5 linked regions of the Homo sapiens genome follow. The protein of the gene in region 4 purifies or fractionates together with the protein of the main gene of each other region. This does not show direct contact. Each region holds a gene or a part of one and is shown on either strand. Other genes may lie near its edges. The genes, in order: SEC24D, TARS1, N4BP1, FAM114A1 and RSU1.

What was found.
Region 1: the proteins of FAM114A1 (region 4) and SEC24D fractionate together in Homo sapiens (co-fractionation; one large-scale study listed by BioGRID). This does not show direct contact.
Region 2: the proteins of FAM114A1 (region 4) and TARS1 fractionate together in Homo sapiens (co-fractionation; one large-scale study listed by BioGRID). This does not show direct contact.
Region 3: the proteins of FAM114A1 (region 4) and N4BP1 fractionate together in Homo sapiens (co-fractionation; one large-scale study listed by BioGRID). This does not show direct contact.
Region 5: the proteins of FAM114A1 (region 4) and RSU1 fractionate together in Homo sapiens (co-fractionation; one large-scale study listed by BioGRID). This does not show direct contact.

What each region holds. Positions count from the first base shown.
Region 1 is NC_000004.12:118,814,377-118,820,993, reverse strand, and holds part of SEC24D (protein transport protein Sec24D), read left to right. Parts: intron 1-3,581; coding exon 3,582-3,730; intron 3,731-5,267; coding exon 5,268-5,543; intron 5,544-5,835; coding exon of another isoform or gene 5,836-5,838; coding exon 5,839-5,966; intron 5,967-6,617. UniProt on the Homo sapiens protein: Component of the coat protein complex II (COPII) which promotes the formation of transport vesicles from the endoplasmic reticulum (ER).
Region 2 is NC_000005.10:33,449,409-33,455,472, forward strand, and holds part of TARS1 (threonine--tRNA ligase 1, cytoplasmic), read left to right. Parts: intron 1-2,932; coding exon of another isoform or gene 2,933-3,031; intron 3,032-3,880; coding exon 3,881-4,004; intron 4,005-5,536; coding exon 5,537-5,658; intron 5,659-6,064. UniProt on the Homo sapiens protein: Catalyzes the attachment of threonine to tRNA(Thr) in a two-step reaction: threonine is first activated by ATP to form Thr-AMP and then transferred to the acceptor end of tRNA(Thr).
Region 3 is NC_000016.10:48,535,201-48,541,295, forward strand, and holds the end of N4BP1 (NEDD4-binding protein 1), read right to left. Parts: 3' UTR 3,526-6,095; downstream 1-3,525. UniProt on the Homo sapiens protein: Potent suppressor of cytokine production that acts as a regulator of innate immune signaling and inflammation.
Region 4 is NC_000004.12:38,880,277-38,886,893, reverse strand, and holds part of FAM114A1 (protein NOXP20), read right to left. Parts: intron 1-6,617. UniProt on the Homo sapiens protein: May play a role in neuronal cell development.
Region 5 is NC_000010.11:16,806,326-16,812,942, forward strand, and holds part of RSU1 (ras suppressor protein 1), read right to left. Parts: intron 1-6,617. UniProt on the Homo sapiens protein: Potentially plays a role in the Ras signal transduction pathway. Capable of suppressing v-Ras transformation in vitro.

The sequences.
Region 1 (6,617 bases), about 80 Mb from region 4:
GGAGTGTTTGAAGTTGAACAGGCCACAGAAAACTGAGTCAACTCTGCAGAGGATTAGGATTAAATTGAGGCTAAATTTTCATGTTTTATTAATCATCTGGTAGTAATTCTTTATTGAATTCTTTCCTATGGTGAATCTGCCCTTCTCTGACATTCAGTGAAATGTAAATTAAAATATATACTTGACATTCAATGAAACCATAAATTAAAATATATAATTGAATGTTTTTCAGTCCAGAGCCATGTTGAATAAAGGCAGTCAACATGAGAAACATTTATTTAACTCTATATGGTTCTTAATTTTAACATTATATTTATAGCGAAAAAAAAAAAGGGATCACTCCATTTCACATGCTCTTTTTCAGAATTTGAAAGCTGAGAGCTACAGAGATTAAGTGGCTTACCTATAGTTACACACCAGGTTTCTACACTAGGGCAGGAGGACCTGGATTCCCACCTCAGCTTTGTACAACATGCTATGTGACTTTCAATAAAGTAATGAAATTAAAAAATATTGGCTGGGTGCGGTGGCTCATGCCTGTAATCCCAGCACTTTGGAAGGCCAAGGCGGGCGGATCACGAGGTCACGAGATTGAGACCATCTTGGTCAACATGGTGAAACCCTGTCTCTACTAAAAATACAAAAATTAGCTGGGTGTGGTGCTGCGTACCTGTAATCCCAGCTACTCGGAAGGCTGAGGTAGGAGAATCACTTGAACCTGGGAGGTGGAGGTTGCAGTGAGCCGAGATCTTGCCATTTTACTCCAGCCTGGGCGACAAGAGCGAAACTCCGTCTCAAAAAAAAAAAAAAAAAAAATTAAACTAATTTGTATGTTTAAGATGTTCTTTCATCTCTTCCCTCATTTATGTGAGGCATTTATATGAGGGGTTTGTTAGCCATTTAATACTATTCTATTTATTTTAAAATTGATAATAATTGCTTTTAAAAACCAAATCTATTTAAGACTTACCATATTTAAGTTGGTCAGAAAGAAATAATTTATTTGTGAATTTCTGAAACCTAACTCCTGGGGTATATGTTAGGCACTGAATCATAAGTAGGCATTTATGAGTTGAAAGTAATAACTGATGGTTATATAGTCTCTCATTCTCTATTTTAAATCCTTAACCTTTGTTAAGTTAAAAAAAATACTTGAAGCTGCTTGTGTTATAACTCCTGTTTGAAATATATTTTGTCCTACCTGTATTGTAAAAACAAAAAATGATTCACAGAACTGTATATTTAAAAGTACTAGCATTTATGAAACACCTTTGAAAATGTTTTGGGGAGGTTTTTTCTCCATATAAATGCAACATCCCCAGTTTCTGCTTATCAAATCCAACATCTGTAACCATACCTCATTGCATCCATGAATATATTCTATAGTACATGTATATTCTGCCTGTGTGTAATTACTTCATTTATTCCCTATGACAAACTTTTTTTTTTTTTTTTTTTTTTTTGAGACGGGGTCTCCCTGTGTTGCCCAGGCTGGAGTGCAGTGGCGCGATCTTGGCTCACTGCAAGCTCCGCCTCCCAGGTTCACGCCATTCTCCTGCCTCAGGCTCCCAAGTAGCTGGGACTACAGGCGCCCACCACCACGCCCGGCTAATTTTTTGTATTTTTAATAGAGACGGGGTTTCACCGTGTTAGCCAGGATGGTCTCGATCTCCTGACCTCGTGATCCGCCCTCCTCGGCCTCCCAAAGTGCTGGAATTACAAGCATGAGCCACCACGCCCCGCAGACAAAGTTTTTTTAAAAGACGAAAAAGTATTATTTCTTAAAAAGAAGAAATGTTTTCGTCTTAGGAAACAATGGATTTACAAAACAGACCTTTAATGTAATTCTTGAAATCATTTTTTAGTGATCACAACATATTTTAAATGTGTCATGCAGGACTAGAATTATATTTTTTGTGCTTGTGTTTCACCAGTGTCATTAATTGATTAGAGATATAAAGAAAACTTTTACTGTGAAAAGTTAATGTTTGTATTTTCTATCTTTTATTCATTTTCTTCCAAAAAGTATTTAAGTCAAAGGGTGCTTAGCCTAACTGTGTTGGGCTTTTTGAAAAGTTTGACAGGAGAGAAATTGGATAGTTTTGTTTAACAGTATTTTTGGGTTACAATGTTATTCATTCCATTATTTCTAGCCAATTTTCTGCTATAGGATAGCTTGTACTTGTGCGTACAATGGAAAGAATGGAAAGACCATTTTCTTTTTTTTTTTTCTTGCAACATGTATTTTATTAGGCAGCCTTTCTGTATCATTACAGAAGAGTCCTAAATTATAAAGTCAATTCCGGCTACCGATAAAACATAGACTGCAGAAATAAGCTGTTCAGAGGTATGAGTGGAAAAGAGCATTTTCATCACTCACCTATTTATCTCAAAGTGTGAGATACTATTCTGCAAATATGCTTAATGTCATGCACTCAGAGTAATGGTTGGAAGGTTAATTTTCTGTTTTGTTTATAATAATTATTCAATTTAAACATATGGAGAAAAATGACAAGATAAAATTAGTGTGATGCTTTGAATAGTGCACTCACTGAAGACCTGGAAAAACGCTGGTCCTAGTGTTGTCACAAATAAATTGTGGGACTTCAGGCAAGCACTGGCTTCCCTCAGGCTCTGCTCCTAACCTCTCAATGGCAGTAGGGGGCAGAAGGCAAGACATGGGCCATGGGGAAATAGTTTCCAGTTTTCAGATAGAGAAATTGAAATCAGAGTATACCATTTGGGAAAACTTAATTTAAAATTTAAAATTCATAAGAATTTATAATGTGACTCTCAGGCAGGCTTTAATCGCATTTGGCAGATTAACCATGCTAGGCACATTGTCCAGATAGCGGCCATTGTTTAATGCAGAACAAGAAAAAATAAACGTCTAATAAGTTCAAGCTAAATCAAAGGTAAAGCATGATGTAATTTTTAGATTTTTTTTTTTTCTCTTTGGGACAGGGTCTGGCTCTGTTGCCCAGGCTAGAGTGCAGTGGTGCAGTCTCAGCTCACTGTAGTCTTGACCTCCTGGACTCAAGTGATCATCTTACTTCAACCGCCCAAGTAGCGCCACCACTCCTGGCTAATTTTTTATTTTATTTTGTTTTATTTTTTGTAGAGAAGGGGGTCTCACTATGTTGCCCAGGCTGGTCTTGAATTCCTGGGCTCAAATTGTCCTCCCACCTCAGCCTCCCAAAGTGCTAGGATAATAGGCATGAGCCGCTGCTCCTGGCTGTATTGTTTTCTTGATTTTCATTCTGTTGATGATTAACTTTAGTATAGATAAGGCTCTGGTTGGCTCAGTTTCCCAAATTGATTTCCAGAACTGGTTTTATGCTCACATTAGGATTTTTTTTTTCTGTCTTGGCATGTTCAGCATGTGAGCATAAATATAAGATGATGCTACATGATCATATTGAGTTCATGTCAAGCTTAATTAAAGATTTAGTATATAATATCAGTCATTTTCCTAGGCCTACTAGACAGGCTTAATTTAATTTTACAAGCTATTAACATTATTGTACGCCATTTGCTTGAGACGCTGTGATATTGTTTGACATCCTGTTTTCCTCTCTCAGATTTCCAGGCCCTCCACCTGTCAACAATGTGGCATCCTCACATGCACCATACCAACCCTCTGCACAATCTTCTTATCCAGGTCCTATATCCACTTCATCTGTCACCCAGCTGGGCAGCCAGCTCAGTGCTATGCAAATCAACAGCTATGGTAATAGTTTTATTATTAGTGTTTATTGACTGCCTTGTGTCCTGGTCATTTTTAATGAGAGAGGTTTTCTTCATTTTTAAAATAGATGTAACTAGGGCATACTGTGTTGAAGTAGTATTTGGACATTTTTAATAATAAAGCATCTATCTTATGTATGGCTATAGTTAATTGTTTTCTTGATCATGCTGCCACTTATTTCAAGGTAATTGAAGGACCCTCAGAATACCTTCCATTCAATGATTGAACAATAAGAAAAGACAAAAAATGCTGATTTCACAAATAAACATTAGAATAGTGAAATTATTTTAAGAAATAAATAAGGATAATTTAAACCTTGTATTGTTTATGATGGGGCCCCCAAATCAGAAATATAGTACTCATTGTTTCACAGTGCATTTTAATTATGTGTTTAGATCATGGAAAGAGTGGAAGCTCAGATGTTGTGAGGCAGAAAAGAGAAGATAGGAGAGGAAAGAGTCACAGTACTGAGATTTACATCAACAGAAATGCTGTATATCCTGTGAGTCATGGAAAGCTCCACTGTAATGACAGCACAGTCGGCCATTTATCTAGATGAAGAATGTTTCCATGTTACTTAAAATTAGTTTTCTGAAGTATCATTAAAACCCCTCTATTTTCTGTCTTTTACTCATTTCAAAATGGATAAGTCTCCAAAGAAGCAACCCAGTTTCCCATAATCAGAGAAAGGAAAACATAATCTGGTTTTACAGCTATTTCCAATATGATTGGAGAGCATGTTGGTGGCCCTTCTCTTGTCTCTGGTTATTTCTACCTAATTCTGAAATTTGTTTGGTCAAGTCACGCACAGGATGCAAATAATTTATTGAATGTGCAATTTACCTGAGTAATGCTTGTTATGTAATAGAATTTTTATATGATTTTCTAGATTTGTACCAGATACAGATGCTTTAATTAATGCATATATCATGTAATTACACAACTGAGTTAAAATTTATTCTATGAATTCCCTTACTTAAATTATAAATGTTGCTTTTACCTTTTAAAAATTTTCCAGGCCAGGCATGGTGGCTCACACCTATAATCCCAGCACTTTGGGATGCCAAGGAGGAAGTATTGCTTGAGCCCAGGAGTTTGAGACCAGCCTGAGCAATATCACGAGACCCCAACTCTACAAAAAAAAAAAAAAAAAAAAATGAACTTGGCGTGGTGGTGTGTGCCTGTAGTCTCAGTTACTTGGGAGGCTGAGGTGGGAGGATCACTGGAGCCCAGGATGTTGAGGCTACAGTGGTCCATTATCTTGCCATTGTATTGCAGCCTCAGTGACAGAGCAAGACCCTGTCCTTAAAAAAAAGAAAAAATCCCAGTTGTATAAAATAGCGTTTGTTCTATTTTCTGAATGAAGATTTCAATTTGTGGCAAAAAACCCAAACATGTGTTTCTAAGGGTGTCCTCTTGCTTTATGTCAGGAAAACAAACATCTCTGTCATGTACTTTGCAGAAGTCAGAGAGTTGAGAAATGTGGTATTTAAGTGGGCTGGTCTCCTTTCTCACACAGGTTCAGGCATGGCTCCTCCAAGCCAGGGACCCCCTGGCCCTCTGTCAGCCACATCATTGCAGACTCCTCCACGACCTCCACAGCCTTCCATTTTGCAGCCTGGATCTCAAGTTCTTCCACCACCACCCACCACACTCAATGGTCCTGGTGCCTCACCTTTGCCTCTACCAATGTACAGACCAGATGGGCTCTCTGGGCCTCCTCCTCCAAATGCCCAGTACCAGCCCCCACCTCTTCCAGGCCAGACCTTGGGTGCTGGATATCCTCCGCAGCAGGGTAAGGCGGACAGGGTGCAGGGGAAGGCTTTGTGTTACCCAGGGGAACCCTTAACTGAAAATCAGCTTTGTTCCTATGTTACTAGGTATCTGTCACTTACTTTTAAGAAATGGTAGTTTTTGAAGAGTTTTGGCAAGAGCAAAGAAATGGGGAACCACACTCATACTTGACTCCTTGCTTTTTTTAATAAGATGAAAAATACAACATGCTTGACTGAACAGCATAATATCGTCAACAAGTCTTACATGCTGGATTTGGGATGATAGTCATTTCTCTTTAAATTTTTTCCAAGCAGCCAACTCTGGTCCCCAGATGGCAGGCGCACAACTGTCTTACCCAGGAGGCTTCCCTGGAGGTCCTGCACAGATGGCTGGTCCGCCACAGCCCCAGAAGAAGCTGGATCCTGACTCTATCCCTAGCCCAGTAAGTACTCTTCTCACTCTCACAGTCTCACTCACAAAGGAGCATTAATTTTTCTCAGCAACTCATCAGTTTGTTAGCATTTATCCTGTTCATTAGCATAGAAGTTAGGAGATACTCATCACATAGAGGGAAGGCTTCCTTCCTTATATGCATGTATGGGGGAAAGCATGCTAGGGTTATGGGCATACTAAAGGTCTCCATGAAAGAGCAGCCTGTGCTGATTTTTTTTTTCTTTTTTTTTGGTGTCATATAAACTTGGCAGTGTCTACAATGTTTACATTGACATATTTTGGCAGTATCGCTATCTAATGAGTAATTAACAGACTATATCCTATAGAAATATGCTATTTTAGATAACTAAAGGATCCTTTTCAATAAGAGAAACCCATAGAGACTGAAAGTATATTTTACATCTTGCACAATAAAAAAACAAATTTTTTTTAATGTAAAGTTAGAACTAAACTCTTCACTCAAGTGATTTCTTTGGAGGGTTACTCTTTAATAATTTTATCAGTCAAGCTTTGCAAGGCCATTCTGCATAGCAAACAATCCCCAACTTTGCTTACAACTGCAAAGATGTATTTATCACTCAGTTTACATGTAGGCTGTGGCAGCTGCAGATTGGATTTAGGCTCTGCTTCATCCGTCCTT
Region 2 (6,064 bases), on a different chromosome or scaffold from region 4:
TGAAAGCGAAAAATAAAAATGATTCTTTTTTTCTTTCTTTTTTTTTTTTTTTTTTTTTTTTTGAGACAGAGTCTTGCTCTGTTGCCCAGGAGGCTAGAGTGCAGTGGCGCGATCTTGGCTCACTGCAAGCTCCACCTCCCAGGTTCACGCCATTCTCCTGCCTCAGCCTCCCGAGTAGCTGGGACTACAGGTGCCCGCCACCACGCCCGGCTAATTTTTTGTATTTTTAGTAGAGACGGGGTTTCACCGTGCTAGCCAGGATGGTCTCGATCTCCTGACCTTGTGATCCGTCCGCCTCGGCCTCCCAAAGTGCTGGGATTACAGGCGTGACCCACCGCGCCCAGCCAAAAATGATTCTTAAATTTTTAAATAGTTGGAAAAAATAAAACAACTAAGAATATACAACAGAGACCATGTTTGGCCTGCAAAGTGTAAAATATTTGTGTGGCCTTTTACAGAAAAAGCTTGCCAATCTTGGTCTTAAACACTTCAACTTAAAATATGTGAATATGTATGTATTCACTAACTTTATATACATACATAAAACAGTGAATATATATATGTATGGCAAGGTTTGGGGGATAGCGAGTGCTAATTAGAGTTCTTACATTATCTTAACACATACGAGAAGTAGTCTGAGCACAGAATCCTTGCAGATTTTCATGTAGTTGTAGAGTTACACCTAACTTGACAGTGTTTTTGTGTGTGTGACTTGGATTTATCAAGCCTTCTCAAACATTCAACTTGGTTTTCATAGAATCCATAATTCCCTTATTGTGTTATTTTATAATTATATATTTTTGAAGTTTATTTATAAGTGTTATGTATTGAATTGAACCATTTGGAATCACCATATGAATTGTCATGTGGTTGATTATCATCAATTTTGTATTGTTGAACCAAACACGTAAAAGAACAAGCACAAAAACAGTTTGGGGAACCAACGTGGCTGATTCTTGGTAAGCGTATTATACAACTAGTAGAAGCAGAACCAGTTAGGCCTATGAGCCATGAGCATCTACTGTACCACAGACATTAGTTAGTACTTTTTACAAAGTGAATGGAGTGTTTCCATTCATTTGACAAGTGCTTCTACCTACAAGTTCTTCTACCTTACTCCAAAGGAAGTAAAAAGTTGTAATACCATGCAAGTTTCTATGTGAGAGCATAGAGAACTGGATAGACCTTTACGTATCAGTTCAACCTTTCATTTTAGAGATAATTTTGAAGGTCAGGTTGATTAATAGATTCCTCTGTTGTCACACAATGAGATTGTAGCCGTGTCATTAAAATTTAGGCTTCTGTTAGTTTGGGAACTTTTTCCTCTACCTTCTACAATGTTGATCTAGATTACATTGTAATTTATCAAGTCTTCAGTTGAAAAATATTCTTCAAGAACTATAAAATTCTAAGTTGAATTACATAGCTGGGCGTGTTGGCTCACAGCTGTAATCCCAGCACTTTGAGAGGCCAAGGCAGGCAGATCACCTGAGGTCAGGAGTTCAAGACCAGCCTGGCCAACATGGCGAAACCCTGTCTCTACTAAAAATACAAAAATTAGCCAGTCATGGTGGCGCACACCTGTAGTCCCAACTACTTGGAGGCTGAGGTGGGAGGATAGCTTGAACTCGGGAGGTGGAGGTTGCAGTGAGCCAAGATTGAGCCACTGCACTCCAGCCTTGGTGACAGAGCGAGAGTCCGTCTCCAGGGAAAAAAATAAAAGGTTGAATTACATAAAACATTGATGGGCTTTAGCTCTGGAGTTAAGTCACTGATCTGCACTGAGAATACTTTATGAAATTTTTACAAAAGTCCAGAATAACTTTTTGTTCTGTGAAAAATTATAACATTGATAACAGGCTATTTAAAGATTCACATAATTAGTGGTGAATATGAAAGGGAAGGACAAAAAAGACATGTTCCATTTGCGTCAAAAGGTTTTTCTTTGAAGTTTTGTTATAAATCTTTTTTTTTTTTTTTTGAGACGGAGGAGTCTCGCTCTGTCGCCCAGGCTGGAGTGCATTGGCGCCATCTTGGCTCACTGCAAGCTCCGCTTCCTGGGTTGACGCCATTCTCCTGCCTCGGCCTCCTGAGTAGCTGGGATTACAGGCGCCCGCCACCACGCCTGCCTAATTTTTGTATTTTTAGTAGAGACGGGGTTTCACTGTGTTAGCCAGGATGGTCTTGATCTCCTGACCTCGTGATCCACCCGCCTCGGCCTCCCAAAGTGCTGGGATTACAGGCGTGAGCCACTGCGCCTGGCCGTTTTGTTACAAATCTTAAAGATTATTTTACCCTTCTTTGAAAAATTGAAATGATCCAGTATGGCCCATGTGTAATCTACATTTTCAGAGTAACTCTATTCTTAGAATCTTGGGGCTCCATATTGGATCATAAGATAAAAGTCATGTTCTTCCCAAAGAATATAGAGAATATGATTATCCTTTTTATCAGTTCTTTAATCTCCTGAAAACTGTTTTACACCAATATGATGAAATACATTTCTCTCTGCCAAATTCATGTTATGTTTTGTGAAATGCATGTATTTATTTTATTGACTCCATCTGATCTCAGGAGGAAAGAAAACATTGTTTATAACCTATGGTAAAGTTAGTAGGAGCATTGAAAATAGAAAGGAGTTTGTTGTTTACTTTCTGTTTGGTTCTTTTCTCTTGATCCTCAGATAGGAGTTGTATACATTTTGTTGTAAACCCTTAGACATAGAGAGCCACCAACACAGCAAGCCTGGCTAGCTTAAAGCCTTCTAGTGGTAGGTTTCTTTGAGATTTACAGTGTAAAGGGTGTATACTTTTTCTTCACAGTGTAGAATGTTGCCTACCTTCGTTGAGATGTCCAGGCTGTTATAGACTATTATTTCTCTAGCTGTGCATTTAGATGTATAATCTGGCTCACCTACTCAACTCTGCTCTAGTCACACAGCTTCCTGCAAAAACCTCTCTTCACTTGCATCTCTGCTTGCATCTGTGGCCATTCCCTCATCTGGAATGCCATGGCCTCCTCTTTTCTTCCTGTGAGTGCTTTATCCTCAAAGCCTTTCCAGATGACTCTGACCTGTACTGCTTTCCCTCCTCAGAACTCCTGTAGCTTTTACACTCTGTGTGCTCTGATATTTCATCACTTGATGATACTTTATGTTCGATGTTGTATATTGGGTGTGTAATGTTTTTACTCACATTATATGGAAAGTTTTATTAAATAGTCTTTCATTTTACCTCTATATTTGTTATAAATATTATCATAGGCATTTGCAGAATTTATTCTGAGGTTAGCATTGTCTGTCAAAGAAAGGATCTGGTGTACATTTTAAGCAGGAAGAGGAACAGAGAAGTTATTTAGTAGGCCTTTTTTTTTTCCTTTGGAGTCTACATAGCTTAGCTTTGTAGAAAGAGAAAGGTGGGTGTATTAAGAGAAAACTCGGTGTGGTGACTTGTGCCAGTTGTCCCAGCTACTCTAGAGGCTGATGTTGGAGGATTGCTTCAGGCCAGGAGGCCAGCCTGCGCAACATAGCAAGACCCTGTCGCTAAAAAATTAAAAAAAAAAAAACTTATTTGTTGGAGAAATTAAGATTATTCAAACCATTGGAAATTGATAGTGCTTATTTATCAGAGTTGCCATATCTGCTTAAACAGGAGGCATTCAATGTCAAATGATAATGTTCTGCATTTTCAGGATCTTCCAGTTAGGTTCTTAGGTACATTTTTGGAATTTGTTGTTTTTATCATTATATTTCAGAAAAATAGAGATACATCAATATAAAAAAACAATATATAATAAAAATAGTGTTTATTTTCCTGTTTTCAAATTAGATTCGTGTGTACTTATATATGTGTGGACTTTTTTTTTTTTTTTTTTTTTTAAGTCAAGGCCTGGCCGACAACACCGTTATTGCTAAAGTAAATAATGTTGTGTGGGACCTGGACCGCCCTCTGGAAGAAGATTGTACCTTGGAGCTTCTCAAGTTTGAGGATGAGGAAGCTCAGGCAGTAAGTTGCTGATTAGTATTCATTGAATTTTAGGATGCAGATTCACATTTGAAGTCTTTTCCAGCTCAGTCCTGCTGCGATTGGGTGGCTAACATTTATTGTTGTCTCACTGTCATATTTGAAATCTTCATTTTGTCCTTCATTTAGGGAACATAATAAAAGTGCTTGCCTTAGAAAATAAAGGGGTGAAGCTGAATAAGTCTTTTCATTACTAGACACTTCAATAGGGAAAATGTTTTGGGAATTGTATTAAACATTGATTAAGCAAGTAAAAATTGTTTTCTAAACTGTGAACACTATTTTATTTTAATTTTTTTTTTTTTTAATGATGGAGTCTTGCTTTGTCACTCAGACTGTAGTGCAGTGGTGCGCTCTTGCCTCAGTACAACCTCCACCTCCCAGGTTCAAGCTATTCTCCTGCCTCAGCCTCCCAAGTAGCTGGGATTATAGGAGCGCACTACCACACTTGGCTAATTTTTGTATTTTTAGTAGAGATGGGGTTTCACCATGTTGGCCAGGCTGGTCTTGAACTCCTGACCTCAAGTGATCTGCCCACCTCGGCCCCCCAAAGTGCTGGGATTATAGGTGTGAGCCACTGTGCCTGGCCTCTAAGCTATGAACACTCTAGCAAGATATGTACATTTGACAAATAAATTTGAACCTTACTTCAAAGCACTGCCTTTATTGGATAATTTCTGTATTTTTTTCTCATCTTAAGATGCAAATCTGCTGGATAACACTATAAAAGTCAACCTGCATGTGATGACAAGATTTTCTTTTTAATTCTCCATGGCTGTGTATCATATAAGGGGAGACAAAGTATTTTGTTTTAGTGATGATTGTTCACTTATGTATGTGGATTAGTGGTTTTCAAATGTATTTTGGAGCCCTCAAGTTTCTTACGAGAATTTTTTAATGTCACTTTGGTACCTTAATACTAAATCTTGAAAACATTGCTTTGGGTGTATTCTGACTCATCCCAGTGATTACTTTAAAACCAAGTACTGCCATTTGATTTCAGTGTACAGATGTTTGTCCTCGTGTTTTGTCATTGTGTTGTGGGGTCGGGTTGTACCACCTTTGTTTTGGGCCAGTAACAACATGTAATTTCTAAGTGATGTTCCATAGCCAGCTAAAGGCCAGATCACAGTGTCTGAGACATGGTGCTGTGGGCACATTGACTCAAAAGAACCTGGGCCATTGCAATCAATGAGTTAGTCACATTGTGAGTAGCAGTTGTTTTCAGAGAACAAAGTCTATGTCATTTAATTAGTGATGCCAAGTTTAGTTTAATTTGTTTGAAAACAGCTAAACCAGATGATTTCCAAAATAAAAATACACTAGTAATTGGAAGCCTTTTGAATTACTTTGGCTATGGATAGAAACAGTAGTTTATAGATTTAGAAATTTAGGATTTTATATATTGGGTTTACTTGTAGTAAATATTATCATCTGTCTCTTTCAGACAACCACATTAATTGGCAACTTGTATGCCAAGACTCAGACCATGCCATTTTTCTTTAAATTTTCAGGTGTATTGGCACTCTAGTGCTCACATAATGGGTGAAGCCATGGAAAGAGTCTATGGTGGATGTTTATGCTACGGTCCGCCAATAGAAAATGGATTCTATTATGACATGTACCTCGAAGAAGGGTAAGCCATCAACTAGATAAAGAAAACTGAAGTCAATGACTATGGATCCATAAGTTATTCTTAAGAGTTCTCAGTAAGGGAGGAATGATATAGATCTCACTGCTTCTTCATCAGGTATGCCCATTATCAGTACTTGAAGTGTTGCAATTTACCTGAAGTAATAGAGGATTTGATGAGACCTCTGTTCTAGATTGATGGAGGTAGAGTCCTAAGGTATTTTGGGAAATTCAGGGAGACTGGTCCTCCCCTCTCCTTTAAAACCTGGTGATAGAGTTGCGGGAAGGGGTCACTAGTGAGAAAGGTCTCCATGGATGACCAAGGTAGAAGCTACTGAAAATATAAAATGTAAAAATTACTTATGAAAAATGTTTTGTTTAGAATTCTAAGATACGATGCAATAGTCTAA
Region 3 (6,095 bases), on a different chromosome or scaffold from region 4:
TTGCAGGGAGTGCACAGTGGGGAGGATGAAGGCGCTGCTTTGTGGAAAGAAGCTTGCAAGCTCAATGGGTACCAGCTGCTCTCCTCCCTCTTGTGCAGAAATTGTCCCCACATGTAATTAAGCCAGCTTCTGTCAGGAGGTGAGGACACACAGTGGGGCCAGGTCGGGAGAAACACCTGATGCCAATGCCAGCCCCACTGGTACTCAGGAACCAGGAGGGAGCCGGAGGGGTCCTGGCCTCCCCTGCTCCGTGCCCCACTCTGTGTCCTGCCTCTGTAGGGCCTGGGATTTGAAAACCACCAAAGGTCAGATGAGGCCCTGAGGGACCCTCGCTGGAGCCACATGTATTCTAGGGAACACTCACCGGCCTGGGTGCAAAGGTGCCTTCCTCACCGTGGGACTCAGGATGGGAAGGACTCTCCCAGGAGCCAGGCCCGTTTCTTAGGATTCAGTCCTGGTTGCAACCATTGCAACTACTCTTTAGTAGGGAGGTGTTTCTCAACCATGAGGGCACGCCGGGTCACTTGGGATTACCAGAAAACGTGGATGTCAGATTCTGATCTCTAGGGTCTGGGGTGTGGCCTGGGCAGCGCTGCCCCTGGGGATCCCAGTGCACAGCCAGGGTCACAGACCACCAGCTCTGAGGGCAGCAGCACTAGCCCTTGACAGATGAGGGCCCGAGGCCTTGAGAGGCTGCGTAACTTTCTCAAGGTCACGGAGAATAAGTGCAGGAGCAGGTGATGCCCTCACTCCACGGGCTGGCTGGGCATGAGGCCTTCAGAAGAAGGGCCATTCTGGTTGTTCTCTCCCTTCCCTGGCACTGTCCCCTGCATGAAGTGGCTGCTCAAGACCAGGGATGGAGGAACCCTGGAGGGGCTGGGAAGGTGCAGCATCCGGAGGGGATGAGGGGTTTGGGCCCCACCCCTCACCGGCTGGGCCTCATGTCCCTTAGCCACACAGTGGGAAGAAGTAAGGGTTCCCAGCCCTTCTCAGAGTGGAGGTGTGACATGCCAGGGATCCTGAGGGGCTGGCAAGGGGAGAGGGTCCTGCTGGCATTGAGAGACACCCTGGTTTGGGGGAAGTCCCCTGAGCAAGCCCACGTGCGCAGCTGCTAGGGGCAGGCTGCGGGAGGCCCTCTTCTTCCTGCTGCCTGTTTTGGTGGCTGAAACTTTAGACTGATCCAGGAGCCAGACAGGCGGGCAGACAAGCGCATTCTTTTTGGGGGAGGCCGCCGCCTCCTCTTCTCGCTAGAAGCAGGGAGGAGGGGAGGACAGGGCCTGCCCAGGCCTGACCCCAGACTGGGTTTCAGGCTGTGGGGCCAAGCAGGGCTCCCTGGGGACTCGGGGCTGGGGAAGGAAAGCCCCAAAGGCTGGAGTCTGCGGTTTGGAGTCCTGTGACTCTGGGAGCTGAAGCCACCAGGCAGGAGGGGGTGAAAGGGGGCTGGTTTAAGAAGCCCTAAGCCTCTGGGCTTTTGGCTCCAGCACTGGCTGTGGGTACTTCTGCTCTGTTTCTGGGCAAATCCCTGCCTGCCCAGTCCATTTCCCCAGTGAATGCCCCCAGCCCTGGCATCCTCGGTGTGTAGGGGATTGGAACCTGAGCCGGGAAAAAGGCCACGTACAGTTTCCAATCAACATCAACTCATCTGTGTTTCCCGAAATGAAGTGCAAGGTGGCTCTGATGCATACATGGGCTCACTCCTGACACAGCTTCTGCAGAACTGGTCAACTTCTTTAAAAAAATATGCTCTTGGCATCCTCTCGCAGGAACAGGGCTGGATACGGGCCCACCAAGCAGGAAGTGGGGAGGCAGCTTCCTTCCGCAGCCTCCCTGTGCCCTGAAGACTGACAGCCTTGACCCAGGTCTGTCATGGGCCCTCAATTCTTTTCCTTGAAGGGTGGAGGTATCTTAGGTGCCATACCAGCTGCTGAGTCACCTCTGGTGCAGCTTTGCCTTTCAGGGAGGTGGGATGGCCCATTGGAATTCAAATCCTAAATCCTGGACATCTTAGCTTGAAGAAATGGAAGTTCCTGAGCATCTCTGTACCTCAGTTTCCTCCTCTGCAAAATGGAGATAATAACAGCAGCACTTTAGGAGTGAGGTGAGGATTAAAGGAGACAGAAGCTTGCCGGGCACATGGGTGGTGAGGGCACGACACTGGTTGCCGGCCTCAGCTTTCTCAGCACCCTGCAGGCAGGCAGTGGCTGTGCTCACTTCCTCCGGGTGCTCTCTCTGGTGACGGCACCCGAGGGACTCTCCCAAGTGCCTGCCTTGTTCAAGGAACAATGCCCTCTCTAGAACAGCTGGACTTCCCATGGCCCTGCTGAGGCACTGAAAGAAATGTAGGCCCTAACCTAAGCACCCTCATCATTGGACCACAGGGATAAAGGAGTGCGTTCAGAACCTGGAGGATGACGGCTTAGCACTTGGAGATAAGACCTGGCTGGTGGGGGTGTGGGATGACCTGGAAGGGTGGCGAATAGTTAGGTAGGTGTCCGCAGGGCTGCTGATCAGAGCCCCAGTAGCAGTCACTGAGCGGGGCTCTGGGTTGGGCACAGTTCTAAGCACCACGTTTATTCCTCATGTCACCCTTGAAGTAGAAAGCATTATTATGCCTATTTTACAGGTGAGGAAATCCTCATCTGTAAAATAGGCATAATAAAATAATGCTTAGTTACAGTTCTGAAGTATACAGAAAGTCAAACTCCAAATGAACAGTGCTGGCATTTGCCCAACTAGGGAACTGGGGAAAAGAACTGCCGTCAGGGGACTGAAGAGGCAGTGGGATGGGCACAGAGCCACGGCAGCAGGGAACAGCTCGAGAGCCAGGCCGAGTTCTCTGCTGAGGGGCACCAGGCCTGAGTTTCAAGTTACTCAACTCCGAAATAGTTGGCCCCTTCCAGCATTTTCTGACTGGGGTGGATACTCCTGAAGCCCTGTTTGTGCAGGTCTTTGGACCTTTCTAAACAATCTGCAAATCCTTGCTAAAGACAGTAACACGTGTTACTCAAGACTCGATTTCAAAGGACGTAAATCCAACTGGAATGACCAGCTTAAGCAAAAAGTGTGTTAGAATACTGGGGTGTGGTGACGTCCGAGGAAGGGCTTTCCTGACAACAGGAACCCAAGGCTCATGCTGCCAGGAACCTCTCTCACGTCGCCGCTTCTTTCCTGCCACAGGTCGACTTCCCCCAGGGTGGAAAATGGCTTCTGACAGACCTGGGCCTGGCATCCCACGATTCCCACCACCACAGAGGAACTCCCCAGGAGTGACTTGGACTGGCATAGGTTGGGCCGGCTGTCGGCCCTGGCCAGGAAGCCTGAGTGCATCTAGTATGCAGCCTGCGCCAGGTACCCCTCCCCGGACCTGTGTGCCCAGGATGCCATGTGCTGGAGCCTGGCAGGGGAGGGAGAAGGGAGTGGAGTGACCCCAGCCCCACCCCACTGTCCCACTGCAGGGCAGTGGATTCCCGGCCTCTTACTGGTCCTGCTGCCAGATGCCGCAGTCAAGAAGGCACTGTCCTCCAGTTCAGTTGAGCAGACATTTATTAAGCACCTATCAAGTGCAAGGCACTGTGCTAGGCGCCGTGGGAAATACAGAGAACACAGGCGGTCCCTGCCCACGAGGAGCTCACAGTCTAGAAAGGGCAGCAAGACAGTACACAATCAGTGGCAGCAGCACCAGCCAGAGTGGCAAGTGCTCAAAGCGAGACACAAAGTGCTGTGCGGTCACAACATCATGGGGATGCTTCTGGCAGAAGCACTGGAAAGGAGACGAGGACTCAGGCTGGGCCTTCCAGGAGGGAAGCCATTTGGGAGAAGGGCATCTCTAGCGGAGAGAGGTCCATCTGCAGAGCCCACAGGTCATGGGAAACATGTGGCTGCAGGGAGAGTTTGGGGACAGTCAAGTATGGCTGGGAGGTGGACAGCCACGGACACTAAGCTCAGGAGATGTGAACTTTGTGGTCTGGTCAAACAGCCACTGCAGATCACTTCGCAGGAGGAGGGGTGACTAGAAGTATGTTACTGGAAGGTAAATCTGGCCACACTGCAGCATCTGGACGGCAGAGGGCAGCGCTGGGAGGGGCCAGCCAGTTAGGGCCCACCACCCCTGGGTGTCTGAGAGTGGGAGTAGCGGGCAGGGGCCAGCAAAGCACGAGGGCAGAGCAGGGGACCATACGGAGGGTGGGTGTGGAAGAAGGGAGGGGCCCCATGCAAGCTGCAGGTCTGGGGAGCCTGAGGATGTCATAGGGCTTCCTGGTAGAGTGGAAAGTGCACTCCTGAAGGTCAGGGCCAGTCACTACAGAGAGGGGACAGCGAGGAGAGGGACGGTGTGGCCCTAAGGGTGACTGCAGTTTCTCAACATGTGGTCCGTGGATCACCTGCATGGGAACTGCCTGGGGAATGCGCTCATTTGCAGATTCCCGGGCCTTCCTCCAGAACTACTGGGCAAGCATCTGCCGGGTCATGCCCGGTAACCTACATTCTTAACACCAGCTGCCCTCTCCACCACCACGAGCCCCAAAGGTGGGGAAAAGTCTGCAAGCCACCTGCAGAGGAAGAATAGGGTGTTAAGGACTGGCTTTAGGCAAAAAGAAGAGACAAAAAGAATGAGGGAGGTCTGGGAGTGAGGGAAGTGGTGGGAAGCAGGGAAAGTCCGGTCAAGCCATGTGCACCAAGACAGAGCCCCAGCGCGGCCTTGCAGCCAGGCACCGGGCCGTCCCCAAGGGCTGCTCTCAGTCCGCTTTCACTTGGTGGGCGAAAGCCACATTTGCAAACTGGGAAGTGGAGAGTGGGAGGTGAGGGGAAGCACTAGCAATGAATGAAGAGGATTCTTCCGGGAATCAGGCTGTTTCAATCTAAAACATCCAAGATAAGTGGAAACACTGGGGAGGAAGGTGATGAACAGACGGAGGTGAGCCAGAGACACCTCCTGGGCAAGTCGGCCAGGAGGCGGGAGGCGTGGGTCAGAGACACTGCAGGAACTGGGTGAGGACAAGGAGGTGCGAGGAAAGGGGTTGGGGGATGGTCCCACAGGCAGCCACACCTGAGGCGTGGGAGGCAGGTAGGAGCTGGGGGAGGGCGGGGAGAAGAGGGGTTTCTGTGTGTAGATCTGAGTCCTCCCTCACATCCCAGCCGTGCCACAAGCCGCATCGGCATGAGGCCGGCTCTCCCTTCTTCACTGGTCTCAAAAGCCACCCAGGCCCAAGTCCCGGCCAGACAGCCGAGCCTGCCTAGCAACGCTGACCGGCCGCCCAGGATGGCCCAGACACCTTCTGTCTCCTGAATGCAGCCTACAGGGGTTCAAACAGACTGCTTGCATTAAGGTCAGACAAGGCTCTTTTACTTCCAGAGACAGCGGCCTGGAGCCTCGGGAAGAATGTAGGCCCAGGAATCACCCAGCCCCTCAGGACAACCTCTCTGAGCAACAGACATCCTCCCTGTTGAATGAGAGTGACATCTCTGCCCTGCCACCTACTTTACATGGATGCCACGAAGTGGGAGAGCCTGAGCAGTAGACAGGGAAGAGGCGAGCGGCCCCACTGCAGGAGGTAGACAGGCTACAGATACTTATGCAGCAGCCACACTGAGGCTAGTACTGGAGGAGGCTGAGAACCAGTAATGAGTTCTTAATGGTTTGATAATTTGGGTTTTTAAATATTAAATATTAAATATCAGGGGTTTCGGAAGGAATGATGAATTCCGTCTCATGCTGTAACTGATGAAGGCAACCAATGAGCAATCCTTCCTTCCCATAGCCGAGAAAGGGAAAGGGGACAGGCCAATCCCTCTGAAGCAGTAAGTCAGAACACGAAGACTTACAGAACTCAAACATCAAAGGTCAAGTAGCTTCTAGCCAGGAAAAGTGGTGGCCCCCTCAGCCTAGCCAGCACCAACCAGCATGGGTGGAGACTCAGCCTGGCAGTAAGGGCATTTCCTGGGTTTCCTCTGAAGCAGAGGAGAAATAGTGGGTCAGCCAGGCTGCTGGACTGAACCATGAGCCAGAAGGCCAGAATCACTGCAAGACAGCTCCAGCCCGCACACCTCAGTTGTGCTTTTGAAAACAGGTACAAAGCTGAGGCATGGGAGCTGTGACT
Region 4 (6,617 bases):
TGCAGTGGTGTGATTTTGGTTCACTGCAGCCTCCACCTCCTGGGCTCAAGCGATTCTCCTGCCTCAGCCTTCTGAGTAGCTGGGATTACAGGCACCCACCACCATGCCCGGCTAATTTTTGTATTTTTAGTGGAGACAGGGTTTCACCTTGTTGGCCAGGCTGGTCTTGAACTCCTGACCTCAGGTGATCTGCCCGCCTCGGCCTCCCAAAGTGCTGGAATTACAGGTGTGAGCCACTGTGCCCGGCCCAGGCTACATTTCTATACATGCTTTCTATATAGGTTACATTTAATCATGCACATGATTCCTCTATCTTAAAGCCAACAAATGAAAATCACGACATGAACAAAATGTGTCTTTCAAACTTATCTGGTGTCTGCTCCACATCTTTCTTCTTTGTCTCTTAAAAAAGGTGCTTATAGTGGCCGGGCACCATAGCTCACACCTGTAAACCCAGCACTTTGGGAGGCCAAGGTGGGCAAATCACCTGAGGTCAGGAGTTTGAGACCAGCCTGGCCAAAAAGGTGAAACCCCGTCTCTACTAAAAATACAAAAATTAGCCGGGTGTGGTGGCGCATGCTGTAATCCCGGCTACTCGGGAGGCTGAGGCAGGAGAATCGCTTAAACCCAGGAGGCGGAGGTTGCAGTGAGCTGAGATCGTGCCACTGCACTCCAGCCTGGGAGGCAGAGTGAGACTCTGTCTCAAAAAAAAAAAAAAAAAGGTGCTTATCTTCTGTATTCACCTCCCTTGTCCATCCTCCCTCCACAGCAAGACTCCTGTGCCACTACTTCATGAAATCGTTCTCATCAAGGTCAAGTGGCTTCCTGTTGTCAAAGCCACGGACTCATTTTAGTCTTTTTATTACTTACTTGACCTCTCGGTAGCATCCAAAGCTCACCCACTTTTACATCTGCCTTAGAGTGTTCTATTCTGATGGCCTATCTTCTGACTCTCACTTTTTTTCCTTTTTACCATCTTTTAGTATGATTTCAGTTATTTACATTAGAATGCTTCTACATGCATATTGTGACATTATGGGTGCTTCTCAAATTAACCTACAATCCAAGTGCTGTCAGCATTCCAATAAAATATGCACAGTCCAGGGTGGTCAGCCAGCATTCTAATCAGGAAAGCCATACTCTGGAGGCAGCTATTTATAGAGGTTCTATTATCTGTATCTGGTAACATCTGATGCTTTACCAATTACCACACCTAACTGCAAAAATGGGTTTTAATTGGTACACATGGTGGACTATTTACTAGCATTCTCAATATCTGAAAGGGGTTCTAGATGGTAAAAATAAAGGTATTCAAGGAGCTGGCTTCGGTGGCACACTCCTATAATCTCAGCACTTTGGGAGGCCGAGGCAGGAGGATCACTTGAGGCCAGGAGTTCAAGACCAGCCTGGGCAACATGGCAAGATCTGGTCTCTACAGAAAAATTAAAAAATTAGCCAGGCGTGGTGGCATGCACATGTAGTCCTATCTATTTGGTAAGGTGAAGCAAGAGGATCACTTGAATGCAAGAGTTCAAGACTGCAGTGAGCTATGATCTTGCTACTTCACTCCAGCCTGGGCAACAGAGAGAGAGAGAGACTATTTTTTTAAAACAGGACGGGGCCGGGCTTTGTGGCTCATGTCTGTAATTCCAGCACTTTGGGAGGTCGTGATGGGTGGATCACCTGAGGTCAGGAGTTCAAGACCAGCCTGGCTAACATGGTGAAACCTGGTCTCTACTTAAAATACAAAAATTAGCTTGGCATGGTGGCAGATGCCGGTAGTCCCAGCTACTCTGGAGGCTGAGGCAAGAGAATCACTTGAATCTGGGAGGCAGAGGTTGCAGTGAGCCGAGATCATGCCACTGCACTCCAGCCTGGCGATAGAGGGAGACCCTATCTCAAATAAATAAATAAATATAAATAAAAATTTTTAAAAGTATTCAAGATGTGTAAATAGTTAAGTATATTTTCTGCTCCTCCCAGTTTTATATGAATAGGGTGTTACAAAGGATTTTGCCCTGTGTAAATGGTCTTCCATCCATCTTTCAACTCTGGGGAATTCTGGTGACTTGATGCCAGCTATCAGGGAAGAAACCTTAGCTCTGAAATCCAGACAGTTGCCTTGAGTAAACCTTTCATTCAAGATGGTGATCAAAGCACCTAAACAATGGGATGTTCTCAAGCCTACATGAGAAAGAGTTCTCATACACCATTTTCAACTCTCTTGTTAATTACCGTTTCATTTAAAAATGTCAGTGTGGTACAATGTGATCTGAAACTTGATTTCGCTTATAGAATGTGGTAGTGGTGAGATTGTACTATAAATTCTTTGCTAGCTACCATAATCTATTTAAAAAGCAAAACAAAACCCTAAGAGCTGTGCCCAACCAAACTGGCTTAGAGACAGAAACCTTCCAGGGCTGAGGGCTTGGCCTCTGTTGTTATTTATATGTTAACACCTGAGCCATCTTACCCACTTCCATTACTGAAATAACCACATAGGTGCTGATAGCCTCTGAATCACCTATCTCTCCAGACCATTTTAACCAACTGTCCACAAAGTATCTTCACTTGGATGTTGCATGGCATATTTAATACTGAACTCAGGCCGGTGCGGTGGCTTGCGCCTATAATCCCAGCACTTTGGGAGGCTGAGGTGAGAGAAGAGCTTGAGTCTAGGAGTTTCAGACCTGCCTGGGCAACACAGGGAGACCCCGTCTCTACCAAAAACCAAAAACCAACTGAACTCACCATCTTCTCAATTATTCCCCGTACCCCAACTAGCTCTTGCTGTGTCCTAGTGTTAGTGGTTCCCAAACTCTAGTCCACAGACTGACTGTAAGAGTGTCACCTGGGGGAATTCATTAAAAATAGAGTCTCAGCTTCCACTATGATCTTGTGCCTAAGAATCTCTTAGGGTAGAGCCCAGGAATCTGAATTTTTAACAGGCTCCCCACATGATTCCAATACACCTCCAGATCTGGGAAGCACTGCTCTCTATGGCAGAATGGCACCTCCATCCACCTGGTTGTCCAAGCCAAAACTGGGTGTCACCGTTCAGGGAACACAGAATAAGGAACGTAGGCAGTAGGGAACTCTGTCCTTTTAGAGCAGGCCAAAAAGGGAAAATACTCAAACAGAACCGGAGAAAACTCTGCTCATCCGGTTTAGGAGGCTAAATGCTGTCATGTCTCAGCCTGTGTCCCCTACTCCTTGTCTCTCTTGACCATAACTTTATGGCATTTAAACATTCTGCTTCTCCTTTTTTAGGGAGAGAACTATCCATGGTGGTCCACACTCCCATGTTTTCCCATGAGAGTACTCAACAGTGTTAACATTGGGATTCTTGACCTTCTCCATAATCGGCCTTATGCGTTGGTGTTGAGCAGTAGGGATGACATTTTAAAAATTCTGGGTAACCTTTCTTGGTGTTAAGAATTCAGAGAAATTTAATCTAGATTGGGTCTTTTAAGGGTTGACTGGCTAGTATATAATAAGGTCCCATAAGAGCTCTGGGAACAAATGTTACTCCCAACCAGTACTCAAGACAAACATCTTTGAATTGAGGCTGAAGACTTCTCTGATTCTTTAAGACGAATTTAAATGCTCTGTCTAAAGCCTCCCTTGTGCCTGTCCTATCTAGTACTAGAGGACATGTAATCATTGCTCTCATACAACAATGTTTCCCCCAACTAGACTGTAGGCATCCTGAAGATAGTTACACCACCCAGATTTCTGGGCATAATGCATTGTGTCATGATGCTGGCAGAGGCCTTAGAGAATCCGGTCCAACCTCCAATGCTGAGGACCATTTCTCACGGAGGTTGTAGAGTGGGTTCCTACAGGAGAAGGCTCAATTCAATGGCTTCTGAGTCTGTATGTCAGAAAGGACAAGAAAGCAAAGAAGCCCTAAAGATAGAGATAGTTTATCCGAGTGCATAAATGGTGTGGTCCTTAAAAACAGAGGTGCCAGCCAGAAAGGTGGCCTCCTCCTTGACTCTGGCCACCTGCTAGTCGCAACACCCCATCTGCCAAGTTATGGTGGCCTTGCTGCCTGAGGCAAATGTGAGCCTAATGATGTGGATTTTAAGGGGATCCAGATCCAGGTACTTACAAATATATATGCATACACATACACACCACACACACATTTATGCGCATTATCACAAAATCTAATGTGCCTTAGAAGTACGTCCTCAAAGTCTATTCTGCCCGTTTTCTTTTTTTAGTAAAGCAAGCATTCCTCACAGAAACTTTTTTTTTTGAGATGGAGTTTCACTCTTGTTGCCCAGGCTGGAGTGCAATGGTGCAATCTCGGCTCACCGCAACCTCCGCCTCCCGGGTTCAAGTGATTCTCCTGCCTCAGCCTCTCGAGTAGCTGGGATTACAGGCATGCACTACCATGCCCAGCTAATTTTGTATTTTTAGCAGAGACGGGGTTTCTCCATATTGGTCAGGCTGGTCTCGAACTCCTGACCTCAGGTGATCCGGTCCCCTCGGCCTCCCAAAGTGCTGGGATTACAGGTGTGAGCCACTGCACCTGGTCAGAAACTTTTTTTTTTTTTTTTTTTTTTTGAGACGGAGTCTCGCTCTGTCGCCCAGGCCGGACTGCGGACTGCAGTGGTGCAATCTCGGCTCACTGCAAGCTCCGCTTCCCGGGTTCACGCCATTCTCCTGCCTCAGCCTCCCGAGTAGCTGGGACTACAGGCGCCCACCACCGCGCCCGGCTAATTTTTTGTATTTTTAGTAGAGACGGGGTTTCACCTTGTTAGCCAGGATGGTCTCGATCTCCTGACCTCATGATCCACCCGCCTCGGCCTCCCAAAGTGCTGGGATTACAGGCGTGAGCCACCGCGCCCGGCCCTGGTCAGAAACTTTTTTAAAGGGCTGATGAGAATTTATCAGGTGTAGATGTACATGGGGTCAAATAGGCTTTTGCACTTGGCTATTTTCCTGCAGAACCTGCCATTCCTCAGGGGCAGCCTGTGTTCAATCCAAACAACCACCTTGTAATGAACTTTAGATTCAAGAATTTGTTTTGTACAATTCACTCTGCTCTGGAGCAACAGGGAAAGAGTTGTTTTCATCAGTGCAAAATGATTTCTTATGAGTATGCAACAAGAGGCAAATAAAATAGAAAAAAATGAACAATAATCAAAGACTAGGCATAAAATTGACTTCTAATAAAAGGATAAGCTACTAAGAGAGACAGTAGAATCCCCTTTCCTGGTAATCTTTAAAAAGAGACTAAATTTGCACCTACGTAGAATGGTTTAAATAAGACCTGGGTGAAAGTGATATCCTCTCTTCCAGGCCCTTTCAGCCAACCTATCGGCTTTCCTGCCCTTCTTAAAACAAACTCACAGGTACTGTCCCCACTCCTTTGTTCCCTCTGAGCTTCTGACCCAACACAATACATCCAGAGCCACGGGCCCGACTCTGTGGCCAGTGTTTGCACTTCCATCCAGGTAATTCCGTGGTGCTCTATTATTAGGAATTTCTCCCCTTTCCAAGGTCCTTGAAATGCTGTCAGTGTTGTAGGGGGTGGGGAAGGTGGAGTACCTGTTACCAACCAGCTCAATTTCTGTAGCATTCAGGAGGTTTATAAGGTGTTTTCAAAGCAAGATTCATTCCATTTGACCAAAACATTTAAGGCAAATGTGGTAGAAGCATACTGATTTTTTTTTTTTTTGAGACAGAGTCTCGCTGTCACCCAGGCTGGAGTGCAGTGGCTCAATCTCAGCTCACTGCCTCAATCTCAGCTCACTGCAACCTTCACCTCCCAGGTTCAAGAGATTCTCCTGCCTCAGCCTCCCAAGCAGCTGGGACTACAGGCATGCACCACCACACCTGGCTAATTTTTGTGTTTTTAGTAGAGACGGGGTTTCACCATGTTGGCCAGGCTGGTCTCGAACTCCTGACCTCAAGTGATCCACCTGCCTCGTCCTCCCCAAGTGCTGGGATTACAGGCATGAGCCACCGTGCCCGGCCTTACTATGCTATCTTCATGAACAGTCCTGTTATAATTATTATGTCTGAAATTGGAATGTATATGGATTTTGAATTAGTATGGATTTTGAATTAGTAGAGCTTGTATAGTTTAAGTCATCTTAGGTGATAATGGTGTGGCTAAGTTATATTTTTCTTACTGTACCAAGATATTTGTTAACAGTAGCACTTAGGATGAAAATTGGGAACCATAGCTCCCTACATGAGACAGACAGTGTGGAGGCAAAGCAGGCTCTGGAGTCAGGAAGACTCTGTTCAAATCCTCACTCTGCCATTTCCTATTTGGGCTGATTCTTGACATAATCTAGTGGTCCATCTCTTCACCAATACCATGCAAACTGCCAAACCTGCGGCTTATTAATGTCCCACTTTTACTTCCTATGTGTTTTGTGGCTGTTATTGCTATTGTTGTTGTTCTAAGATCAATGGATGAAAAAGTGTCCTAGTAGCCAAAAGAATGAAAGGGCTTGTCTCCAGATACTTTTGAAGTGTTATTGTAGCACCACAGCATTTTAGAGCTGGAATGATACTGAAGACCACTTACTCAAAGAATCATAAAAAGGACTTTGAAAATTCTTTAGCCTAAACTAATTATTCTCAATCCTGGC
Region 5 (6,617 bases), on a different chromosome or scaffold from region 4:
CACAGGGTATGTGCATATGACTGTCAGAAACCAGTAAGGCAAAACAGGAGAAGCTGAGAACACTGCTTCCGACGTCTGCAGGTGTGGCTTCAAATCTGGGCTCTACCACTTATTGCCTGGGTGACTTTGAGCAAGTTAATGATGCTCCTTAAATCTGTTTCCTTACCTATTAACTATATAATGACAATACATTGTGAGGTTTGAAAGATTAATCCATACAGAGGGCTTAGCACAATGCCTGGTATGTGGTAAATGTGTGCGTGTATTATATTAATACACTCCATGCATAGATGGCATGGTATTTCAATCATATTATCTATTATTTTCATCCTCCTAACAAAGAGTGCACAACGTTGTAGAATACAAACATATAATAAATTACATAGGCATCTTTGACACGCCCTAAAGACTTAAGCATTTACAGCTGTTTCATTATTTATTTATTTTGAAAGAGTCTCACTCTTGTCGCCCAGGCTGGAGTACAATGGCGTGATCTTAGCCCACTGGAGCCTCTACCTCCCAGGTTCAAGTGATTCTCCTGCCTCAGCCTCCCAAGTAGCTGGGATTACAGGCATGTACCACCACACCCAGCTAATTCTTGTATTGTTAGTAGAGAGGGGGTTTCACCATGTTGGCCAGGGTGGTCTCAAACTCCTGACCTCACTCAGGTGACCCACCCACGTTGGCCTCCGGAAGCGCTGGGATTACAGCAGGCATGAGTCAGGCTGGGATTACAGCAGGCATGAGCCACTGCGCCCAGCCTCACTTACAGCTGTTAAGAACACCAAGTTACATAGACCACCATTCAAACACTGAGATTGCAAACCACATTACCGTTCTCCGGTCTGCACTGTGTCCTGAAAAACTAAGAGGCGAAACCTCCTTGCAAGTAATTGCTTGTTCTGATGTGTGCCTTTCATTTGGCCTCACCCTTAAAATTATAAGTTACACAGAGTCCAAAGGAATAATTAATGGATATGCAAAGAAACGGATGAAATAAGAAGGATCTTTATGAGGTATGGATACTATAACTAAAACTACCATTTAATGTACTTCAGGTTTATTCTATTTGATACATGAACCAATATTTCCCCAACACAATCTTTTCCAGCCCCATACTTTGTAGTGTTTTAAGCTAATGTTCTAAGTTTGAAGACAAAAGAAAATGAATTAACATACGGTATACAAAGATCTCACATCTGATCATTCCATTCTATTGAGATTAATAGTTTTTCAGGAAACCATAAAGAAAGTGGGGAGGGTTCTGCTAATATTGATGGAGATTAAGTTGCTTCTTATGTTTTCTTCAACAGTTAAAGCTCTGCAACCATCCTGTAAACCCAAGTTTCCAAGCTGGCAGGGCTAGCCCAATAACACTATTTTATTTGCTTAACACAGTGTTTTAAAGAATTCTGAGACGAGGTACGGTGGCTCACACCTGTAATCCTAGCACTTTGGGAGGCTGAGGCAGGCGGATCATGATGTCAGGAGACTGAGACCATCCTGGCTAACACGGTGAAATCCCGTCTCTACGAAAAATACAAAAAATTAGCCGGGCTTGGTGGCGGGTGCCTGTAGTCCCAGCCACTGGGGAGGCTGAGGCAGGAGAATGGCGTGAACCTGGGAGGCAGAGCTTGCAGCGAGCCGAGATCACGCCACTGCACTCCAGCCTGGGTGACACAGCAAGACTCTGTCTCAAAAAAAAAAAAAAAAAAGAATTCTGAAAATGAATGCCTTACGGTAAGGCAGGCCCTAGGAGTCACCTCTCCTTGGCATCCAAGCCTGGCCCTGGTGAGCCCTTCGGGGCTAGGATACAACACAGCACAGTATCACACAGCAAACCTTTCAGACACACTCAAGAGTGAACTCCAACCGGGCGCAGTGGCTCACACCTGTAATCCCAACACTTTGAGTGGCGAAGGCAGGTGGATCACCTGAGGCCAGGATTTCAAGACCAGCCTGGTCAACATGGCAAAACCCCATCCCCATCTCTACTAAAATTAAAAAAATTCGCCAGGCGTTGTGGCAGGTGCCTGTAATCCCAGCTACTTGGAAGCCTAAGGCAGGAGAATCGCTGGAACCTGGGAGGCGGAGGCTGCAGTGACCGTGATCATGCCACTGCACTCTAGCCTGGGCAACAAGAGTGAAACTCCATTTAAGAAAAAAAAAAAAAAAAAAAAACAAAGTGAACTCCGTTTCCACCACTGCCTGAGTGACACTGGGGACTTTATAGAACCTCCATAGCTCTCTACTTTCTCATCTATAAAATGCTGACGGTAGGTGAACCAAAGAGGGATGTTATGAGTGTGAGAAGCACTTACCACAGAGTAGGCACTCAGGTCTGTATCATTTGAGAACCTCTAATCTAGATGTTATGGAATGAACTATGTCTTCCCAAAACTAATATGCTGAAGCCCCAATCCCAAATACCTCAACATGTGACTATATTTGGAGATGGGGCCTTTAAAGAGGCGATCAGGTTAAAATGAGGTCCTTAAGGTGGACCCTATCCCAATCTGACTATTGTCCTCATGAGAAGAGGAAACTGAACAGACTGAGGGACAGCAGGGATGCAGAGGGAAGATCATGTGAGCACAGCAAGAAGACGGCCACCTGCAAGCCCAGGAGAGAGGCCTCAGGAGCAGCCAGCCCTGCTGACACTATGATCTTGAACTTCCAGCCTCCAGGACCGTGGGAAATAAATTTCTGTTGTCAAAATCACCCAGCCTGCGGTGTTTTGTTTTGCAGCCGTAGGACATTAACAAAGTAGGTACTATTAATCCTATTATTGGCCTTTTGGGCTTTGCTAGCACCTCAAACCTGAAATACTGTTTTACAGCATTAAGCATCACACGCTGATGGAATCTGCTCAATGGGGACACTGCAAATTCCATTTCCTTTGATTGGAAACATGCTCTGATCAGCACTTCTCTATTCAGAGGCCACATGCAAGGCAGCTGTGAAACATGCCAACCTCAAAGATGCTCTGGTTGACTGTAACATACGTGAGATTTCTTTCACTGTGAGCTACACAGATAAAATGCCATTAAGACTCCATCTCTCTACCCAAAGACAGAACCTGGCGAATGAAGGTGGAAGAACTGTAGAGGCAGCAAAGCTCTGTGTGGAGATGAGACGAGCTGTGTCCAGCCTCCCAGGGAGCCCAGGAGCAAAACACAGAGGCTCAACACTGACCCCTGCTGCTCACACACTTGATCTAGACCAAATGCTCCTTGGCCACATTTTTACATCATCCTTTGGTTTAAAAAATAAAAAAATTAACCCACCTGCACAAACTTGCTATCCAAAGAAGAGGTCTTTACGCTGAATTAAAAAAAAAGTCATCTCTAGTCTTTTCTCTAACAATGGATCTCCTGTATCTAGATTGTGTTTTCTTTCAACTAGGTTCATGTGAATTTATGAATAAATAATACAGGGTATGGTTTTCAATTATTATCCATACCAATTGTAGCATTGGTTATAATGGCAAAGCAGTGAGTGTTATAGTTCTTATGGTGAAAATATAACTACTTCACATGTAATAGACACCTTATAGTCATCTTAACATAACAAACAATAATTTCTCAGTAGATAATTTTAAAATTCAATATAAGACCAGGCACATTGGCTCACACCTGTAATCCCAGCAATTTGGGAGGCCGGGGGTGGGGGGGGGAGGTGAATCACCTGAGGTCAGGAGTTCAAGACCAGCCTGGCCAACATGGCAAAACCCCATCTCTACCAAAAATACAAAAATTAGCGGAGCATGGTAGCTGGCACCTGTAATCCCAACTACTCCAGAGGCCAAGGCAGGAGAATTGCTTCAACCTGGGAGGCGGAGGTTGCAGTGAGCCAAGATCGCGCCACTGCACTCCAGCCTGGGCAACAGAGTGAGACTGTGTCTCAAAAAATAAAAAAATAAAAAAATAGAAATTAAAAAATTCAATGTAAACTCCCAAACGAACTCTGGTTACATAATGCCTATCATAAAAAAATACATTCAATAAATAGTTACTGCAGGACACAGAGTATTTTAATTATTAGTGGAAAAATTACCAGTTTTCAAAGCATGTCTGCCATTCTCAACAGAAACTTGGCCACAAGCACATCCCAACGAAAATCCTGCTGCTGTTCCCCCAGCAGCCGCCCCCCGGGCTATGCACAGCTCTGAACTCGCCAGTGTGTGGCAACGGCTGTTCCTCTTGACCCTAGCACACTGGGCCCAGCCGCCCAACTTCTCCTGGGAATTCTGACTCAGGTGAGGAATAAGGCAGTGGGTGTGCTGGTTTGACAAGACCATGGGACAGGTGGGCAAAGACCACTGAGAAGTACCATCACCAACGTTTCCAAGAAATAAAGATATTGTTTTGCACTTGTTACACCATCACAGATAAAATGGTTTTTACAATAGTCATGCACCGCTTAATAATGTTTCACTCAACAATGAACCACCCGGGAGGCTGGGGCAGGCAGATCGCTTGAGTCCAGGAGTTCAACACCAGCCTGGGAGAAATGGCGAAACCCCATCTCTATAAAAATTACAAAAATTTGCCGGCAGTGGTGGCATGTGCCTGTAATCTACGCTACTTGGGAGGCTGAGGTGGGAGGATCACTTGAGCCCAGGAAGCCGAGGCTACAGTGAGGCAAGATCATGCCACTGTAGTCCAGCCTGGGCAACAGAGTGAGACCTTGTCTCAAAAACACAAACAAACAATGGACCACAAATATGACAGCGGTCCCACGAGATAACAATAATGTACTATATTTTTACTGTATGTTTTTGTATAAAGACACACACACTCACCATCATGTTACAATTCCCTATGGGATTCCATACAATCACATGCTGTACAGTTTTGTAGCCTAAGAGCAAAAGCCTGAGTCACAAGCACACCATCTAGCCCAGGTGTGTAGTAGGCTACACCATCTGGGTGTGTGTAGGGACATTCTGGGAATGACCACACAATGACAAAATCTTATTATGCATTTCTCATAACGTATCCCCACCATTAAGTAATGCATGAGTGTTCTAATAATAGCAAGTATTAAGACCATCAGGTACCGGGTGGTACACTAGGCCCTTATAGATATTAATTCACAATGACCCTATGAGGTGCTCTTATTATTCCCATTTTATAGATGAGGCACCTGAGGCACAGAGAGGTCAAGCAACTTGCCCAAGGATACACAGCTAGTAGCAAACAAAAAAGATGCTTACAAAAAAGCCACCAGGGCCACTAGAGCCAGAATGTCAGAGGACTGACAAAAAGTCAAATGCCATTACCGATTCAGTCATGCCAAAGGGGCTACACCTCTTCTTTGTTTCAATGAAGCATTTCCAGTTTTAACCCTATCATACAATCAAAAATAGAAGTTGTCAGTTCCATCTTGTTCCTGATAGCTGGAAACTGCTTCCCTCTGGAAACTGCGGAGAAGCCTGCAGGAAGGAGACAGAGTACATGCTCCTTCTCCAGAGCTATGCTTTCTCCCTTAGCCAACCTGAATCTCTTAACTAAAAGCAGTAACATTCCTTCTTCAATAAATTTTTCCCAAGTACTATGCCAAGTAGAGAGACACTTCAGCTAGGCTGGATGGGATGGTGGGTCAGAACTGAGTATTCTCGAGGGGCCTCCTTGAGGAGGTCACAGGAAATGGAGTCATGTGAATAGTTAAGTCCTTCCTTCTTTCAACAAGCACTAACTGACAAGGGGGCAAGGGCTAGCTGGAGCGAGAAAAACGAAAAGGGCTCCCCAGGCCAAGAAGCGGCGTGTTTAAAAACAGAAAGGTGGGCACATACACACAACCTAGAGGAGTGAAAACATAAATAATTTTAAGGCCGGGCACAGTGGCTCACGCCTGTAATCCCAGAACTTTGGGAGGCCAAGGCGGGTGGATCACTTGAGGTCACGAGTTCAAGACCAGCCTGGCCAATATGGTGAAACCCCGTCTCTACTAAAAATATAAAAATTAGCCAGGTGTGGTGGCGCACGCCTGTAACCCCAGTTACTGGGGAGGCTGAGGCAGGAGAATCGCTTGAACCCAAGAGGTGGAGGCTGCAGTGAGCAGAGATCACGCCACTGCACTCCAGCCTGGGCAACAGAGCAAGACTCCATCTCAAAAACAAAAAACAAAAATTAAAAAACAAAAAAATGATTTTAATAGATTATATCTAAAATTACAGGTCCTCCCCAGCTCTTTAATCTATCCCCCAAAGAAGGTCGACATGGATAGCATGTGTTCCAGGTTTAACAAGACTTTTGAGATAGCTCTTCCAGATAACCCATGATCATATTTGTTTATTATTTTGCCTGGTCCTTTAGAAAGACCACTCCCTTGAAAGCAGGTTGTTTTCGAGATTTATCTGAAAAATATTTTAGTCTAACTTGGAAAAAAAATGATAAAGGCTTGACCACCCAGAGAGGGCAATACACTTGAAGAGATTAAAAAATCAGGAAACACTTAAATAAGAGAAATGAAAGAAAGTTCCTCCGGCTACAGCTGGGATTCTGTCTCTATGGAAATGGAAGCTGATTACAGGGCCCTTCAAAATCAACTTTATCAACCAGATGAAGACAGCTGCTGCTTGGGAAAGAGTTTCTGCAGTGAAATCTCTTTAA